2 separate regions of the Homo sapiens genome follow, and region 1 is linked to region 2. The links come from fine-mapping of genetic effects on gene expression. A gene starts in region 2. The other region holds a variant in brackets. All regions are shown on one strand. Distances are between the middles of the regions.

The links. PIP is the estimated chance that this variant, and not a neighbour inherited with it, causes the effect. A credible set is the group of variants that fine-mapping cannot tell apart.
Region 1: its variant is the best candidate, but not a certain one, in a credible set for the expression of TOR1AIP1 in fibroblasts (GTEx, PIP 0.85).

What each region holds. Positions count from the first base shown.
Region 1 is chr1:179,913,777-179,923,276 of GRCh38, reverse strand. It overlaps TOR1AIP1 (torsin 1A interacting protein 1), which reads right to left. Exons shown (of 10, transcript NM_015602.4): 9 at 9,223-9,279; 10 at 3,201-5,825. The coding sequence ends at 5,038. Among named protein-coding and RNA genes, the nearest start is that of TOR1AIP1, 36 kb to the right of the region's middle. The variant G/A (reference allele first, on the strand shown) is at 4,624.
Region 2 is chr1:179,878,331-179,887,830 of GRCh38, reverse strand. It overlaps TOR1AIP1 (torsin 1A interacting protein 1), which reads right to left and starts at 5,546. Exons shown (of 10, transcript NM_015602.4): 1 at 4,854-5,546; 2 at 3,062-3,139. The coding sequence starts at 5,328. LOC139427322 reads right to left here and starts at 5,515. Exons shown (of 1, transcript NM_001436163.1): 1 at 5,438-5,515. The coding sequence starts at 5,515. The coding sequence ends at 5,438. RefSeq lists enhancers at 4,580-4,679, 4,983-5,277, 4,840-5,599, 5,104-5,641, 5,620-5,729 and 1 more.

The DNA.
Region 1 (9,500 bases), 35 kb before region 2:
AAGTCACAAAGGGGAAGTTGCTAATTGGGTAGCAGCAATAGAGAGACAGAGGGAATGGCTGCTGGTCTCCAAATGAAAACAGTCTTCACAGTTCCTGTATTTTCCTTTTCCTGGAGTCTGAGATGTATATTCTTGCAATCTTCACCCCAGCCCTCTTTTGCTCATTTCCTGGTTGGACAGGGTTTTTATTCTCTACAATCAATTTCTGACCAAATATGTGTGGCTCTACTTCAAACTAAAAGTCAACATATTGACATGCAGAGATAGGAATTTAGTCTATCACTTTATGCTTAGTATCTGGGGAGAAGATATATGAGCTAAACAGAAGAAAGAGAAATTTTCAGCACTTCTACAGTCAATCAAATCTGGTCAGTTCTAATTCTCGAATATTTTTCTTATCCATCTTGTTCGTACATCCATAGCCATCTTTTATCTGAATTATAATACCCTCTTAGGCAACAGAAAAAGATGGAAGAATACTTGCTAGCTATTTTTAGAAAATGCAAATGCCAAATATCACTGTGGAAAGACCTCACAGCTTCCCAGTCTTTTCCCTTGATATTCCACCTTTCCCTTGAGGACCTGTAATGATCACTGTCTCTATCAGAGAAGTGCATTTCCCTTCCACGGCGTAGATTGGTCCTCTTTGTTTTTCCTTATTCATAGCATTGCTAAACCCAGATGAGTTATATACAACTTTTAGATAGGGCTTAGGCGTAATGGGGGATGGGGGTGGGGAAAGCAAATAAAACACTAAGATGCAACTTACCTAGCTATAATTAGGTATGGCTTGCTCTTTTTATTCAATAAATATTTGAGCATTCTGTGATTGCCACGGTGCATATATTGATGACACATCACTGCTTGCAAGATGCATGTGGTAGCAGGGGTATGCTAATGCTGCCACAGGGTAATAAAGGATAAATCAGAGTGTGGAGCACCTCAGTCACTTTAAAATGCGCAGGAAAGTCTGTGTTCTCTCCTTTTATCTGGAAGATTCACCAGTCATTTGAGCCCTTTGAAGTGACTCATTCAACCCCCAAAATGGTTTGGCTGGACACTACCCAGTTTTGGATAAAAGGACAGGAGCTGGCTTCAGCTAGCAGTTTGCAGAGGTTTTCTTTCATCAGGGGTATCATTGGTTATCTTGTAATGCTTGCGATGAATTTTTCCAGCCTCTAATTCACCCAACCCAGGAACTCCTCACGCTGCTGGGTTTTGTAACAATAAAGGTCTTATTGTTTAAGCTACCAAAAAAAGAAAAAGAAAAAAGAAAGAAAGAAAGAAAGAAAGAAAAAAAACAGGAGGCACCTAAAATAGTATCTGGGGGAAGGGAATTATGAAAGATTTCACTGAAGTGCTGCCCTAAGAAAACGAAGACTTTAAGGACAAATAAAAATTAGCAGAACATGAGATTGGAGAAAGCGAGAGGGCAGGAAATGAAGTATTCCAAGAGTCTAAGAATGTGCAAAAGACAAGTGAATGATGTGTTTAGGAAATTGCAAGTAGTTCATTATGTCTGGGGTGTAGAGTACAAAGGGGTTCTTCTGTTTATGCTCAGGTGACAGGAACTAGTTTCTCTACCACCCACAAGGGTCCTTAAACACACAAGGAATTCTCAGAATCCAGGCCAGAAAGAGGGCATTCAAGGGAGGAATTTCCTCCTTTTCCAGTCAATGGCAGCCTTCTCAGCTTGGTTTTCCAGGCTCAGGAACCCCATCTTTGGTGGTTAATGCCAATAAAATCCTCTTCCTTAGGGAAAAACACTATCCTCTTATACCACAAAATTTTACTACATGATCTTGATAAGGACAAAATAGCAGAATAATGCATTATCTTTACGTATTTAATGTAACTGCTTGTTTACACTGCCAAAAGAAAGGCTACTTTCCATAAACTTGAGATCATAGGGAAACTGGATATTATACTTTTAGCTTAGGCGTTAACTAATGGTACAAAGTATGTAAACCCCTATCACTTCTAAATGGCAGTTCACTGAATGAAAATCAGTTTACTTCCAATTTTTGTTTTGAGGATTAGAGGTTTAGAAAACATCTTTAAATATTAAAAAGTCATTAAAACAAGGGAAGCAAATTAAGTTTCAAATTAAGTTACTGTGGTTTTCCTGGGCCACTGTTGTCAGCCAGTTACAATGTGCTCCATTTCTCTAGACCCTAGCTCCTATTCTGAAGCTGGTATCTTACTTAAATTTTCCTTTCTAGGCCAGGCTCCGCGGCTCATGCCTGTAATCCCAGCACTTTGGGAGGCCAAGGCAGGTGGATCACCTGAGGTCAGGAGTTCAAGACCAGCCTGGCCAACATGGTGAAACTCCGTCTCTACTAAAAATACAAAAAATTAGCCGGGCATGGTGGTGTGAACCTGTAATCCCAGCTACTCGGGAGGCTGAGGCAGAAGAATCACTTGAACATGGGAGGCGGAGGTTGCAGTGAGCCGAGATTGCGCCACTGCACTCCAGCCTGGGCAAGAGTGAGATTGTCTCAAAAATAAAAAAAATAAAAAATAAAAAAAATAAAAAATAAATTTTCCCTTCTAAAAGGATCACAGTAACATGAATAGCAAATAGAACATTTTAGGCAGCAATTATCTAAAACGTGGATGCTCTTGAGCATGCATTCTCAATGGGGGTGAAAATTGGTTCATTGGGGACAAAAAAAAATTCTATTTTGTATAAAGCAAAAAACATTTACAGTCCATAAACAGATACATAGTATATATCTGGTGTTGAAATATCATGGGGAAGGGGTGACTAAGAAAAAAATCTAAAAAAGTTCTTCAGGGAGGTGATAAAGAAAAGGTTAAGAAGCCAGGTGTAGTGACTTATGCCTGTAATCCCAGCTACTTAGGAGGCTTAGGCAGGAGGACTGCTTGAGGCCAAGAGTTCAAAAACAGCCTGGGCAATATAGCGAGATCCCATGTCTACTTAAAAAAAAAAAAAAGAAAAGCTGCTGTGGAGATTCTTTTGCTAAGTCAGGAATATCTAACTTAACTGTATTTTTAAAAACCCTAAGTGCCGAGATAAAATGGAAAGTTACGGCTATTCCACTTCTAACCAATGTACTTGCAAATGGCTCCAGTTCTTTGATTTTTGTTTCTCCTAGCCAGAGTTGCTACAATTGTTCAAGGAAAATACTTGGATTTCTTTTTTTAAAGATGATAAATCATTAAGTTTATAACACATAGAGAGTATAAACCAAGAAAGTAAATTTATTTAAATTACTAAAATAGCTTTTAAAGTCATTTACAGATCAGCTGCTATAATTATTTTTCCTGAAAGACATAGGTAACATATTACTTTTAAATTACTTGGGTCAATGAAACATTTAATAAAAACATTTGTTTCTCTATATAATACGTATGTATAAAATAAGCCTTTTCAAAAACTCTGGTTTTCATAATCCTCTATAAATCAGATGATCTGACTTCTAAGAGGAACAAATTACAGTAAGGGGTATACATTTATGAATACTGGTAGTACTAGAGGAAAGACGTTAAACCACTCTACTACCACTTGTGGAACTCTCAAAGGGTAAATGACAAAGCCAATGACTGACTCTAAAAACAATATTTACATTTAATGGTTTGTAGACAATAAAAAAACAAGGTGGATAGATCTAGAATTGTAACATTTTAAGAAAACCATAGCATTTGACAGATGAGAAAGCTCAATTATAGATGCAAAGTTATAACTAAACTACTATAGTAGTAAAGAAATACATTTCACACCCTTCATATAAATTCACTATCTTGGCTTGAGGCACTCCATAAAATGTATCACGTGCATAGTAAATCTTTATATTTGCTATGGCGTTGCACTAGAGGACTTGGACTGCAACAAGTGGATGCGCGGAAAATGAAATCTTCTTCAATAGCCCAGGACAGCTGGTTAACAAATGGTTTGTCAATTCCTGAAACTCATTTCTTAATTCAAAACAAAAGCTTCAGGGTGTGTCCAAAATAAACTGTTACGAATTGACCTACTTTTTTTTTTTTGAGACGGAGTTTCATTTTTGTTGCCCAGACTGGAGGGCAATAAGCATGGTCTCGGCTTACTGCAACCTCCGCCTCCCGGGTTCAAGCAATTCTCCTGCCTCAGCCTCCCAAGTAGCTGGGATTTCAGGCATGCACCACCACGCCCAGCTAATTTTTGTATTTTTAGTAGAGACGGGGTTTCACCATGTTGGCCAGGCTGGTCTTGAACTTCTGACCTCAGGTGATCCACCTGCCTTGGCCTGACCTACTCTTAAGACTCAAGTGAACAAATATATTAAATTTTGCAATATACATGAAGAATCCTTGGGACAGCCAAGAATTTTTCTTCAAGGAAGGAAAAAGGAGATGTAAAAAACAAATCCCAACGGAATCCACCAAGATTAACAGTTCATATACCTATGTTTGACTAAACTACATCTCAGTGGATTACTGTAACATTTCCTCCCTTCAGCTTCCCCATTAATTTTCCTTCCTTGCCTTGTTCTTTCCATTTTCCAAAAAACAAAAGAAAAAAATTCCAAACACACACCTAGATGACCTTTCATTACTTATGTTCCTATAGGCAGAAGCTAAGGAACTCACACCTAAATGGTATAAAAGGGAACATAATGG[G/A]AAAATCCCTGGTTACATTTAGGGAGCAATCTTACTAATAACTCAGGAAACTTAGTGAGAAATCTAAGTTAAAAAATCAGGAAGGTTCATAAGAAAGGACACAAATCCCTCTCACTGGTCATACCATAACTGTAATAACTCAGCCCAGAATCAAAACAGATTCTCTAAGGAACTGCATATAATCTGCACTCCTAAGATACCTTTAACAGAGCTCTCAATGGAAACTGAAATGATTCTCTCATATCACAGATAATTAGGTTGAATGAATGATTTATATGTTCCATGTTTATGTAAGCACTTAACTTCTTTAAAAAGAAACTAGTTCTTTCAAAAAGAGCTCTGAATTCTGTCTCTGGTTAGAAAGTGTGAACAATTCTCAGAACTTGGGACATGATTTTTCTTCTCTCTCACTTCTTATAAGCAGATGCCCCTTTTCAGGGCATTTTCAGGTTGCACAGGCAGAACTAAGTGAGAAATACGGCTCCAGAGGCCATTCAGTTTGTCTGGGTCCATATGATTGTAGGAGTTGGGTGTGTTAGAATTGGTGAACTTGACTTTAAGAAAATCTCTTACTTTTTCTTCAACTTCCTTTAGGCCTAGACTTGTTCCAAGTGTCTCTTCCTCCAATAAGACAGTCAGGACTAAGGCTACATCTTTGAAGGCCGCGTTTTCATGGTCACAATATTTGTAGAAGATCAAAGTAGAGCCTGCGGGAAATGACTCAAAGCGGTGTACCACAGCTGCATTCTGGCCATTCTTAAATCCATTGCTCAGTTCTTGGTCTACCTCTAGTTTGACAGTATCACTGTCTTGAGTAGCTTTATCTGTCCCATCAATCCGGATGGCACGGACACTACGAAAAGAAGAATAGGCATCAGCAATTTGTTCACTCAGACACCTAAGTGCTTCTTCAGCATCTCGGGCAGCAGTGAGCAGTAAGATAGCAGGCTGAGACCGAGGATGGGAGCTATTAAGATGTTTTTCCAGGAATGTTTGGCTCCTTTTCCACAGCTTCTCATCTTGACCTTGGTACTTATTCTTAAGTTGATTCATCTGGTTCTGGAACTCTTGAACAGCAGTGGTTTCTACCTCAGGAGTACTAAAGAACCAAAAACTCCCAGAGGCAAGAGCAGCTATCAGAGGAAGTAGCCACCACCGGTTCCTCTTGACAAAAGATGCATTTTGGGGTTGTCCAGTCACTTCTACTCAGACAAAAAAGAAATGACAGATATAAATACCACTTTCTTAGATTCAGGGGCAAGTGACTTTTAAAATCAATATCAGTCTTTATAAACATTAGGTAAAAGAGGAAGGACTTTAAAGAAGAAAGCTGATAATTTTCTTAATAAAATAATTTATCACATTCTCAAGAAAATCTTACATGCATAGGCTTTGAATTATGTGTACAAATATGCATATGTCTCTTCAATATAAAAATAAGTCTTTGAGGAAAAAAGTTTTTAAACATATGAAATGGCATAAACAAGTCAGAAAAATAATAGTTTATAAAGCGAAGTTATTATTTTCACTGCTAATAGTTGGGAGAATAGACTATTAAAATACAATTTATAAAATATTTTTTTAATTTAGTAACTCAGCATTCACATGGCTAATTATTCAAGGTGAAATATTTCTGAAGTACATAAAGGGATAAAGAAAAGGATGCAGGCTGGAAGTGGTGGCTCATGCCTGTAGTCCCAGCACTTTGGGAGGCCGAGGAGGGAGGATCACGAGGTCAGGAGATCGAGACTGTGAAACCCCGTCTCTACTGAAAATACAAAAAACTAGCTGGGTGTGGTGGCACACACCTGTAGTCCAGCTACTTGGGAGGCTGAGGCAGGAGAATCACTTGAACACGGGAGGCGGAGGTTGCAGTGAGCCGAGATCACGCCACTGCACTCCAGCCTGGGTGACAGAGAGAGATTCCATCTCAAAAAAAAAAAAAAAAAAAAAGAAAAGGATGCAATATAAATGAACATCTTCTACGTGTTATAATAGCTAGCTGTCCCTTTAGATTAATTTCACTGATGCCTTTTGTGGTATGCAAGTTAACACTGGTAAAATTTAGTTTGTGACTCATCCCTAGTTACTATTGGCAATAATAATAGGATTAATTTATATTTATCTAGTGCTTTTCGGTTTATAAAGTACTTTCTCATATTCTACTTCATTTATTCAGTTGATAGTAACAATAATACTTTTACATCTTTTACTTATTGACTGTTTCAGGCTATTAATTTTAGTAGGGACCTTTTAGAGCAGCAATTCTCAAGGCGTGGTCTGTGGGGTACCTCAAGACCCTATTTTGTGGGGAGGGGGGTCCATGAAGTTAAAGCTATTCTTCTAACACTAAGATGTTATTTGACTTTCACCTTGTGTTGACATTTGCACTGATGACGCAAAAGCTATGGTGAGAAAAACTTCTGATGCCTTAGCATGAGTTACAGGGCAGTGGCACCAAACTGTACGAGTGTAGTCATTGTTATTTTTCACTGCCATGCATTCAAGATTTAACAAAGGGACATTCTTTTACTTAAGAATGTCCTTTATGAAGCAGTTAATTATTTATCTTATTAAATCTGAATCCTTGAGTACATATGTCAATATTCTTTCTGAACAAATGGAAGGTATGCACAAAGCACTTCTGCTGCATCATACAGTACCATGGTTGTCTCAAGGAAAAGAATTTTGTGCAAATGAATTACAAGGCGAATTAGCACATTTTTCATGGAATACTATTTTTTACTTGAAAGAACAAGTAACAAACTACAGTCAGACTTGTGTATTTGGCAGATATTTGCTTTCAAGTGAAAATTAGGATTTTAGAATCCTAAATCTGCCACCATGAGCTTGACAACTCCCAATATTGTACTTTAACACTTTCTTTTTTTTTTCTGAGATGGAGTCTCGCTCTGTGGCCCAGGATGACATGAAGTGGTGCGATCTTGGCTCACTGCAACCTCTGCCTCCCAGGTTCAAGTGATTCTCCTGCCTCAGCCTCCTAAGTAGCTGGGATTACAGGTGCGTGCCACCATTCCCAGCTAATGTTTTTGTATTTCTAGTAGAGACAGGGTTTTGCCATGTTGGCCAGGCTGGTCTTGAACTCCTGACCTCAGGTGATCCATCCGCCTGGGCCTCCCAAAATGTTGGGATTACAGGCATGGGCCACGAACCCCACCCTTTAACACTTTTTTAAAGTCTTGAGATTGGCAGTGATGTTAACAAATGTGATATTTTTTATTACATTCCTAATGTGTCAATGTTTGGAAAATCTGCATTCCTCAGTGAACCAATGTTTTCCAAATGACCAGTGCATGATACTCCATTCAAAGTATAAGAAAGACCAATGACTTTTAATGTAATAGAGTACTAAAAGCTCAGTAAGATGGTTTTAGATATCCTATTTCAAGTAACATTTAAGAAACTACCACTTGTTGAGTTTTGGAGAGTTCAAAAAAGAATAGCCACAATTATCTGAAGAGGCTATTAAAATTTTTCATATCTGTATAAAAGCTGGATTTTTTGTAGATACTTCAACAAAAATAATATATTGTAACAGACTGCATACAGAAGCATATATGATAATCCAAATCCATTTTTTAAAGCTAGGCATTAAAGAGATTAGAAAAAATGCAAAGCAATCTGATCTGTTACTCTTCTTGCTAAATTATTTTAAAATAAATTAATACATATTTTAAAAAATGTTTCAACTTTAATTTCCTGGTACATATGGATAGACATAACCCATATTTTCAACAAAAAGCTCTTTGAGGTTCTTAATAACTTTACTAGTGTAAAGCGGTACCAAGAACAAAAAATTTCAGAATCATCATTAATCTATTTTCTTTTTTTTTTTTTTTTGAGACAGAGTCTCGCTCTGTTGCCAGGCTGGAGTGCAGTGGCACAATCTCGGCTCACTGCAACCTCCGCTTCCTGGGTTCAAGTGATTCTCCTGCCTCAGCCTCCTGAGTAGGTGGGACAACAGGCGTGTGCCACCACGCCCAGCTAATTTTTGTATTTTTAGTAGAGATGGGGTTTCACCATGTTGGCCAGGATGGTTTCGATCTCTTGATCTCATGATCCGCCTGCCTTGGCCTCCCAAAGTGCTGAGATTACAGGCATGAGCCACCACGCTCAGCCCATTAAGTTATTTTCTTAGTACTCTTTCAGGACAATAAGACTTGGAGAACTAAAGAAACTTGCCACAAGGCTGTAAAGGAGGTAAGTGGTCCAATCTAGTTCAAATACAGGTTTGCAGACTCCGAAAGCCATTGTAATCCCATAAAGTCATGCTCTGGCTAACTTTCTTTCAATTCAGCATGGTTTTCTCAGTTAACAGTATTAGTAGCTTTACTTATTTTAGCTATTATTTTTGGTCTTATAGACAGTTAAGTGAAGAGCAATACCAGATGTTGTCTCATAAAGTTTGTCTATAAAGAATTTCACTGCTAGTAGAATATATACTTTTTCCTCTCAAGTGCTTAAAATGTGATTCTTCAAATAGCATCGAGTCATACTGCTGTCAAAAAACATTTTTAAACAATTATGGAATACCAATTTTACAGAAATATTTAATAAAAACTGAATACATAAACTTACGTCGGCTGGAGGTTGATGGTGACTGGTTTCCAAGCTCTGATTTCAGAATGCTGTCATCTAATGGTGAGAGTAATAAAATAAGACTATCAACTTATGCTTCATAATTTGAGTATTTATTTCTAGTAGACAAAGAAGATACAAATTCCACCAGGAAAAAAAGAAGACAGAGATCAGCCAGAAGCAGAAGAAAAAGTAGAATATCTGAGTGCCGATTAGACTGAGAGCTCCTTGAAACACATGACCTATTTCTTTCATAGCTTTTCACAGCATATGGTGGG
Region 2 (9,500 bases):
AGCTAGAGAAGCAAATGTTCATGATAAAATAGTAAGCATTTAAGAACAACTATCTGATTGTTTAGCTAGAAACCACACTAGTAGAACAAAAATACCCATTTAACTTCTGGAAAAGTAAATAGAATTTGTCCTAATATATTTTTGGATTATAAAATTAGTGTCATAATTTCCAGAAAGAAATGAATCTGGCCATAGGAGAATAACTGTTATGTAGGTATATATAACCTGAATTGATTAAACAACCTAACGGCTATTTTAAGTGAAAACAACTCAATTATGGAATTTCAAACAATGAGAAGATTTCAAACTATATTCCTGTTCTGAATTAATCAACATTTTCAAGTCTTCCAATAACAAGATAACCAAATGATGTAGATATTTTTACTATGTTGTTTTATAAGGTGGTCCTTTGGTTTAGGTATTTTTTTTTTTTAGACGGACTCTGGCTCCATCACCCAGGCTGGAGTGCAGTGGCATGATCTCGGCTCACTGCAACCTCCGCCTCCCGCGTTCAAGCGATTCTCCTGCCTCAGCCTCCCGAGTAGCTGGGATTACAGGTGCCCACCACCACGCCTGGCTAGTTTTTGTATTTTTAGTAGAGATGGGGTTTTCACCATATTGGCCAGGCTGGTCTCGAACTCCTGACCTCGTGATCTGCCCACCTTGGCCTCCCAAAGTGCTGGGATTACAGGCGTGAGCCACCATGCCGGGCCTAGGTCTTTATTCGTAAGGGCATCTTTGCATAATTTTCTGTCAGACCACACCGGTAGCCTTATATACAATTATAGCACTATTTTGAATATCAAAGTTAAACTGAATGTCTATCATTCTATGAGGAAGAAGGGCTTATCTTTACCTTAAACTTGTACTTAAAGCAGTCCTCCATCAAAGAGTGACTCCATTTAAATAATTTCTCTTAGACTTTATAAGCATTTAATAATTCCCTAAACTCTCCTTTCATTAAGAGGCATGGGATGGGAATATGCCAAGTATTAGATGTAGTATAAAAGCACCTTTTAGAGGAAGAAAACCCTGAGTATCTCAAACCTCTCAAAGACAGACATACTCTTATTTCTAGTAATACTGAAGGCACAGTATGCTATTGATACAGTCCAGGTAATCTATGTGCAGATTCCATTTAATCTGTCATTTATATTGGTAAACATTTTCAATTTCTATTTATAGCATAAGCTTCTTGAGAAAAAGGATACACTTAAGCAAAATTGTATGAACTTCACATCTCTTGTAAAGGGCTATGAGAAAAAAAAAACCTCACTTGCATGTTTTACCGGGTACAAAGTGATTTCAAATGTACTATCTCATTTCTTCAGAGGCCCTGTGAGTTATGCAGGGCAAATAACACAGGTAAAGGCCTAAGGCTCAAGATGAGTGAGTAACTTCACTGAGGTCCAATGCTCTTGCCACAACCTCATGCAGCCATGGTGTACCTCATTAGCAGTTCTTAAATATGAGCCTAATATAAACTCCAAAAAGACTATTCAAGACATTCTATTACTTAATAGTTTTATAATGGTCCGGAGGCTAGCACTCAGTAGTCTTCATTATACCAATTTACTTAACTCCATAATTTTTATAAATTACTCTAGATTTAAAATTAGACATTTTTGCTTTCCCAGGTATACAATAAAATCTACTGCAAATAAATTCAAGATTATGGTTTTCCAAAATGGCCCAGAAAATCTGATTATATCATCATTATTCAAAGCATTTTTCTAAGATAGTTTATAATCTTAACACAGTAACATAGACTATTCAAGGAATATAGGACAGGCCAGGCGTGGTGGCTGATGCCTATAATCCCAGCACTTTGAGAGGCCAAGGCGGGTGGATCACCTGAGGTCAGGAGTTCGAGACCAGCTTGGCCAACATGGTGAAAACCTATGTCTACTAAAAATACAAAAATTAGCCAGGTGTGGTGTCAGGCGCCTGTAATCCCAGCTACTCAGGAGGCTATGGCAGGAGAATTGTTTGAACCTGGGAGGTGGAGGTTGCAGTGAGTGGAGATGGCACCACTGCACTCCAGCCTGAGCAACAGAGCGAGACTTTGTCTCAAAAAAGAAAAAAGAAAAAAAAATTAGCATGAAGGTGTTTTTATTTGAAACTCAACTTGAACCAGACATACTTATTCTAAGTTTAGAATACAATAGCTCACATTATAAAGCATAATCTTATTAGAAACAGGTAAATAAGTCAGGATCTGGGTACTAAAAACCAAGGATTATCAGTTTTAACAGCTATGATTGTTTATTATTGTGAGACTTTCCTAATATCAAAAAAAGCAAATTGAAAATTAAATGGAACTAAAACCCAAAGCATTAATAACTGGACTTGATCCCTTCTCCAGCTTTTTAAAATATTTTAATCAGCTTTTAAAACTTAAGTGAACTATTAAATGTAGCCTACTTCCATGTTACATTGATTCTGACAATTTTTTTAAACACTTTAACATCTTTGAAATTGGGATGCATCATATAATTATGGCATATTACTACAAATTACCAAAAAATTGGCAGCATTTTCCCTTGCTAGGTGGTACATAAAACAATGATGGTGTTTCTTATAGTCGATAGCATCTTAAGATTTGATAAACCACAGTATTAAACTGAAAAGACTGATCACACTGTGTCAAGATTTTACCATGAAGAAAAGTTAATCCATTTTAAACACAGGGCAGTATAACATATTCATTCATTTGACATTGAACAAATTTTACTGAGTAGCTAGTTATGACATGAGAGAATGATAGTGAGGCACTTGGGGGGAAAGTAAAAGGGCTCTGGAGAAGACAAACCTGGGTTTGAATTTTGGCTCAGTCACATATGTGATCTTACAGAATTGTCTTAGCTTCTCTGTGTTTCAGTTTTCTCTTCTATGAAATTGGTATAATACCTATCTTACAAGGTTATATGGGTGGCTGGTACTCTTGAGTACTCACGTGTCTGCCCTTGTCTTTTCTTTACACATACTTACATTGTTTAATTCAATGAACATTTAAAAAGTTGGTAGGTAAGGAGAAAAACAAAAAGTTAACTATTCTTACCTGGAGCCTCTTGTATGCTCCTGACAGTTTTCTTTGAGATCGTTTGGCTTAAATCAGTTTGGGAAGATGCTTCATCCTCTAAAAAACAGACATAACAAGAGTTAAAATTCAGAATATATGACCTGGGAGATCATGGCACAGATTATGCATTTTTGTAACAATACATAAGCAAAAATTCAAGAAATTCGTTTCTTTAGAAACAGGTGGTTAGGTTTACCAAAACTTAGGAAATATACCAGTCAGAACTCCTCTTGAGACAGAATACAATGAATTCAACAGAATATAATAATATTTGCCATTGTTGTTTTACAAAAATATATTACTTCAGAAAATCAAAAAGATGGGGTAGAGAGTCACAAATGATGTGGAAGAAAGCAGAAGAGTGAAAAATGTTTAGATCCTTAAAGATTTAATAAAATAGGGGTAAATTCTTTACTTGTTAAAAAAAAGTTAGCCTGTATAACTGCACTAGGCTCTGTGGAACTCAATACAATGTAACATATTTTTTGCCTACCATGTACAAAGCATTCTTCCAGGTACTGAAAAATACTGAATTAAACCAAGTACTTAAATTACTATCAAATATATTATAGGCTCCTTGTCTGCAAAAACTTTGTAATCTTAAAAGAGATAAAACTAACACATATATGGGCTAAACTGTCTTCAGTTGCTACACCCAAAAATAACTGACATAACTTTAACATAAAGTTTCCAAAATCAAGTCTTCAAATCTGTCAGTACCTTCACGAGTCAGCAGGTAAACTTGCAGCCTATCACCGTGCTCTAAGCTGAAAACCCACTCCTCCGCCTATCAATAGTCTACCACAAACTATGTCATCCCATTGTGACTCAGGTCCGCTGATTTTTACCTCACAGGTGCCTTACATGGGATTAACATGAAACTTCATCTGTGACTCAGTGTTAGGTCCTAAAATGGGGGGGGCAGGGTGGGAGAGGATAGATTAAGGAAACTGATTCACCTATGACTTACCTAACACTATACACTCACTTTGTCAGCATCCCTTTTGTCCATTTAGACGAAAACTCTAATTAATAGTCTTGTTTTTCAGGTTACTTTGTCAGTCTGATTTGCCAGACTACTTGAGGTTACAGTGACGGCCACCAAAGTGGCAGATTTTTGGCAGGGACCACCACACTGGAGAAACAGCAATCAGCTCAAGTTATCAAACACTGGGGAACATCAGTTCAGGAAAAATGAGTTACCCCATTTCGGTGAAAGTATTGGGTGAGGTCTCAAATCAATTCACTAAACTCAGCAATCCCTCGAAATGCCCACTCACAAAATTTCTCCTTCCTCTCTGCCCACCTGGGTGAGGAGGGAAAAAGACTGAAAGGTTAGATCCTCAGCTGGGGACTCTGGCCCGCGAGCGTTAAAGAAGGAAATGGAAGTGGTTTCTGTAGAAACATCCGCAGGGTAGAGGGAACCGAAATGAAACCGACCCTGCAGTAATTCGCTGTCCCCTCGTGAAGGCCTGCAGAAAAAGGCAGCTCTGACTCCCCTAAATTGATGCCCGATGTTGGGCAGAGCGCCCCAGCCCTGCCCGGGTCGCTCCACACGACCATCTTTCCACTCCTCCGGTCGGCGCTTCCTTCCCCGCTGCGGGTCAGGGTGGCCCTTGCACGGCGGCACAAGTCCAGAGGGGGCTGAGGAATACCCTTTAGCCAATCCCAGTACTTAGTACCCAGGCGGGCATGAGCTCCACCGAGGCGCGCGCCCGCCCCCGCGCGTTCCCTGGCTCGCGGCTGGGACTGTTACCTCCGCGGTCCTCACCTTCAGAGGAATGAGAGTCCCGCAGCCCTCTCCTGGTCATAACAGGAGACGGCTGTAGCGGAGGCTGCTCTGAGTGCTGCTGCTGAAGGCGGGTAGTCCTTCGCGTCTTCATTTCCTCGGTTTCCTGGGGTCGCGGCTGCCTCCGCTGCCTAGACCGAAGGTAGTACGCGCTTTCTCTCACTTCCTCTTTCGCAGAATCGGACCGGAACTCTTCTAGCCGGGTTCGTTTTCCCACCGGGGACCTTTCTTTGGCCACCAGGGGCTCGAAGTCGCCGTACACTTCTGGCGGCTCGTCCGAGAACCTCACTTCCCGCCGGCCCTGGCGCGACGGAGGAGTTCTGTACGCAGGCGCATCGCTGCTGCCGCCATTTTGAGGGGCGAGCCGGCCCCTTCCCTCTCGGATGGGGGCCCTGGGGGTGACGTACACACCCCATCCTTCCCGCACCGCCTCTGCCCGCCGCCCGTCGCCCGCCATAGTTGTTGACGTAGCTTTAGTCGATCGCGAAGATGGCTTTATGGACCCTAGGTTCTCCTGCCGGTGGTGGCGATGGCTTCTCGGGGGTGTTGGGCGGTGGCCGCTGTGGTCAGGGAGGCAGTTGCGAGTCGCTGGGGCCGCCGCCTGCGTCGTCGCTGCTGTGTAGCAAACCTGCCTCTGGGCCCATGGTGTGTCTTGAGGGCTGTGAGAGAGGCAGTGCCTGAGCTGGGTCAGCTGCTGTGGATCGCTCCCGCCTCCTGGCTGGAGGCACCAAAGAGGAGGAGAAGGGGGAGGAGGACGTCTCTGCCATCGCCCTTAAGTAAAGGAGGGGTGGGGGCGATAGAAGGATGGCAGGGCAACTTGCCTGTCCTAAGTCTAGCCGCTCGTGGCAAGTGTTGACTGCGTGTAGGAGACTCCCGTCCTATCTCCCAGTACCAAGTCTCGGGGAAAAGGAGTGCGACGAGGGTGGAGAAGACCCAAGTTTCGCTTCTCGGCCCCAGGCTGTTGCGCAGTTTCCCTGGAATCTTTTTGATCGACTGCTACGTTGACCATGTCCTTCCCAGTGTCCTTAGCAGGAGTGATGGCCAGAGAGAGAACTTTTGCACATGCCATGTTTTCGTGGCAAAAATTTTAGTTTCAAGTACCTTATGAGGGCGGTTACCTAGTTTTGAATTTTGTCACTTGTTGAGGGTGTACAAAATCCTATCTAGAGTCATACTCGTTGGATGTATTTTCTTTTCCGAAATGTACCCATAGGACACATAACCTTATTCCTGGTCTTTAATATTTCTCGGTTTTATACCAAGCAGCAGTGTTCGGAAGACCATGTTAGTGCTACATTGTGCACAGTGAGAAATGAACAAGTTTTTTAATTAAAGACAGCACTGTAATTTTAAGTTGTGATCCATTATTTTTACTTTTATTCTGGATGTGACGTGATACTCTACATTTGATTTAGAATGCTTTATGGACTTTATGGAATAAGAAAGCATGGTAAAATCTATTTGTTTCACCTCCTTATACAAATGTTTACAGATGTGGCTAATCTGCAAATACCTAACCAAATTTAGACACATTCAGAGAAGGTCGATTAAGTTCGTGTAAAGTCTGAATAATTATTGAAAGAAAGCTTAAATTGCCTTCAAATATACAACTGCTTGTAGGGCTTTGTATGATTGGAGTGAATAGATTTAAAAAATTGTAATTTGGATACCAGTTACAATGAGCGATTCTGAAAAGTTTGAAGGTGTTTGTTTATTCTTCCAAGTAATCACCTTAAAATGTTTTTGAGCAACTCATTTGTTGCTCAAACTTGGCACAAATTTCAACTACTTAAGTCGTAATGTGTACTATGTTTTTATTTTATTTTTATTTTTATTTTATTTTTTTTGAGACGGAGTCTTGCTCTGTCACCCAGGCTGGAGTCCAGTGGCGCGATCTCGGCTCACTGCAACCTCTGCCTCCCGGATTCACGCCATTCTCCTGCTTCAGCCTCCCCAGCAGCTGGGACTACAGGCGCATGCCGCCACGCCCGGCTAATTTTTTTGTATTTTTAGTAGAGACAGGGTTTCACCGTGTTAGCCAGGATGGTCTCGATCTCCTGACCTCGTGATCCGCCTCTCGGCCTCCCAAAGTGCTGGGATTACAGGCGTGAGCCACCCTGCCCGACTGTGTACTATGTTTTTACTAATATTGTCCATAAATTTGGCCACAGGCAGGAGGAATTACAGTTTTAGAGTGAGATAAGGTTTGGCCTGTTAGGAGCTTAGTTTACTGTAGCTTTATGTACAATATAGCTTTTAAAAACTGCAGTAACAAAAGAGAGACTTCTTTCTTTCTTTTCTGTCTCTCTTTCTTCTTTCTTCTTGTCTTTTAAGGAAAAATGAAAAGGATACTCTTCCTTGTCAGTCTGGATTAGATGGTATATTTCGGAAATTAGCTAGATTTACTCTTCCAACAAAATGCTCAAAAGTATTGATATGGTAATACGTGGCTTTTATTTATGTTTTAAGCAGGGCTTTCTCTTTAAAGTGGCTATTACATTACTCATTAGTAACACAATAGTATAAGTTCCTTAATAGATTTAATTATTAAATATAAATTTTATAGTAATATATTGAGTTCATATTATGAACATTAAAGTCTCCTTGAAACATTTTACCAAGACAGATGACTATGTAGAAACTGGGATACTAGCTTATAAAACTTGGATACAGGCTTGTAAAACTTAGGTTTGAGGGACAAATTAAAAAAGAGACAAGAGATTCTACATATTGAACAATCAGAGGAGAGGTTCTGCATATTATTGAATAATCAGAATATGCATATTTTGTAATTAAAACTGCTTGTAAAGGCTTAGGAATGGCCTTTCAACTAAATTAATGAGACACTTACTGTAAAATTAGAGGTATGGTAACTTTAATGCTAACACACACACACACACACACACACACACACACATATATATATGCATCGGATTTTCCCTCTCATCTAGGTTGTAAGCATAAGGAAACCTACCTCTACTGTGACTGCCTCCTTCACCTAGAAACCTTACAGATACGAAACTTTCATCACTAGCTCTGAGGCAAAGCTAAACTGTTATGAAACTAGATACTCTGCTGTAGCTATTATCCAGACTATAAGAGTGGCTGAAAAGAGGTGACATTACAGTGACAGTAGAGTCATAGCCAATATTATAAGGGATGCGCTGGGCCACTAAAAAAGGATGCCTCAGCTCTGGATATTAAAGTTACTTTGGGAATTTGAGAAATCTGGAGGAATTCAGTGACCCAAAAAAGAAGACCGGTAAGAAAAGAAATGATTAAAACAAAGAATACACTTAATAATTCATTTACTTATCAAACGTGTGCCAGCAATGAGGAAGACTATCTTTAGGGAATTTGTCATTTATTGGGAACGACAGAAACACGAAAAATTACAATTCAGATTAAATGGCATTAATTCACACACTTAACTATTAGGGCTAGGTCTGGAAATCCTGTGCTCTTGAGACTGGGTTCCTAAATCAGTTATTTTATTTCATTTTTAATTAATTTATTTATTTAGAGACGGAGTCTCGCTCTTTCGCCTAGGCTGGAGTGCAGTGGTGCAATCTCGGCTTACTGCAGCCTCCCCCAACTCCAGGTTCAAGTGATCCTCCTGCCTCAGCCTCCCGAGTAGCTGGGATTACAGGTGCCTGCCACCATGCCCAGCTAATTTTTGTATTTTTAGTAGACATGGATTTTGCCATGTTGGCAAGGCTGGTCTTGAACTCCTGACCTCAGGTGATCCATCCGCCTTGGCCTTCCAAAGTGCTGGGATTACAGGTGTGAGCCACCACGCCTGGCCAAAATAATTATTTTAAATGAAACATTTTAGAACAATAAATTTTTTGTACAGGAACTTTTTGCTTTAGGGTAAGCAGAAGTTCATTTATTTAAAGAGATAAATCTATCCGTTGTGACTTAGTAGTACAAATGAAGTAGGCAAACAATTTTAATAAGGAAAAGATGATTAAAATATTAAACAGGAGGAAGTTAATTAAAGACATAGTAGCTGGCTCCATTTATTCCCCAGTCTTACAAATGATAGAAAAATATTTTAATGACAATACAAATGAAAATTCCTGGAAATGTTATACTGAAATTAATTAAACACAATAAAGTGAATGGAATATAGTATTCTTTTTGTTGAATTAGGACTTGCAGTTAATTATTAAACACCATCCAAGAGTGTTACCAAATCCTGTCACTTCTGCCAAGAGAGGGTGATTGAGAAGTGAAGGCACCAAAAATCACATTAAATGAGGAATTATTAATTCAATAAATACTTGAGCTACTGTGTAGTAGGCAGTCCCTGTTCTCTGTGCTGGGGATACAGCAGTGAACAAAATAGACTAAAAGACAAAAAATGTTTCCTGCCTTCTTGGAGATTATATTCTATGGGAGGAGTCGGGCAAAAATCAAAATAAGTAAAATAGTGTGTTGGTCAGGACTGTTATGGGAAAAAAAAGAGGAAAGGGGAAGGGAGTTTTACATGAATAGATTTCTTCTTGAAATTTGGTTAGATTTGTCCTGAATTGCTGTAGGTCAAGAACAGGAATTTTAGACTTACTTCATTTTTCCCCCAACAAATTGTATGTTCTTGGGTAAATTGCTCGCCATCTCTTAATT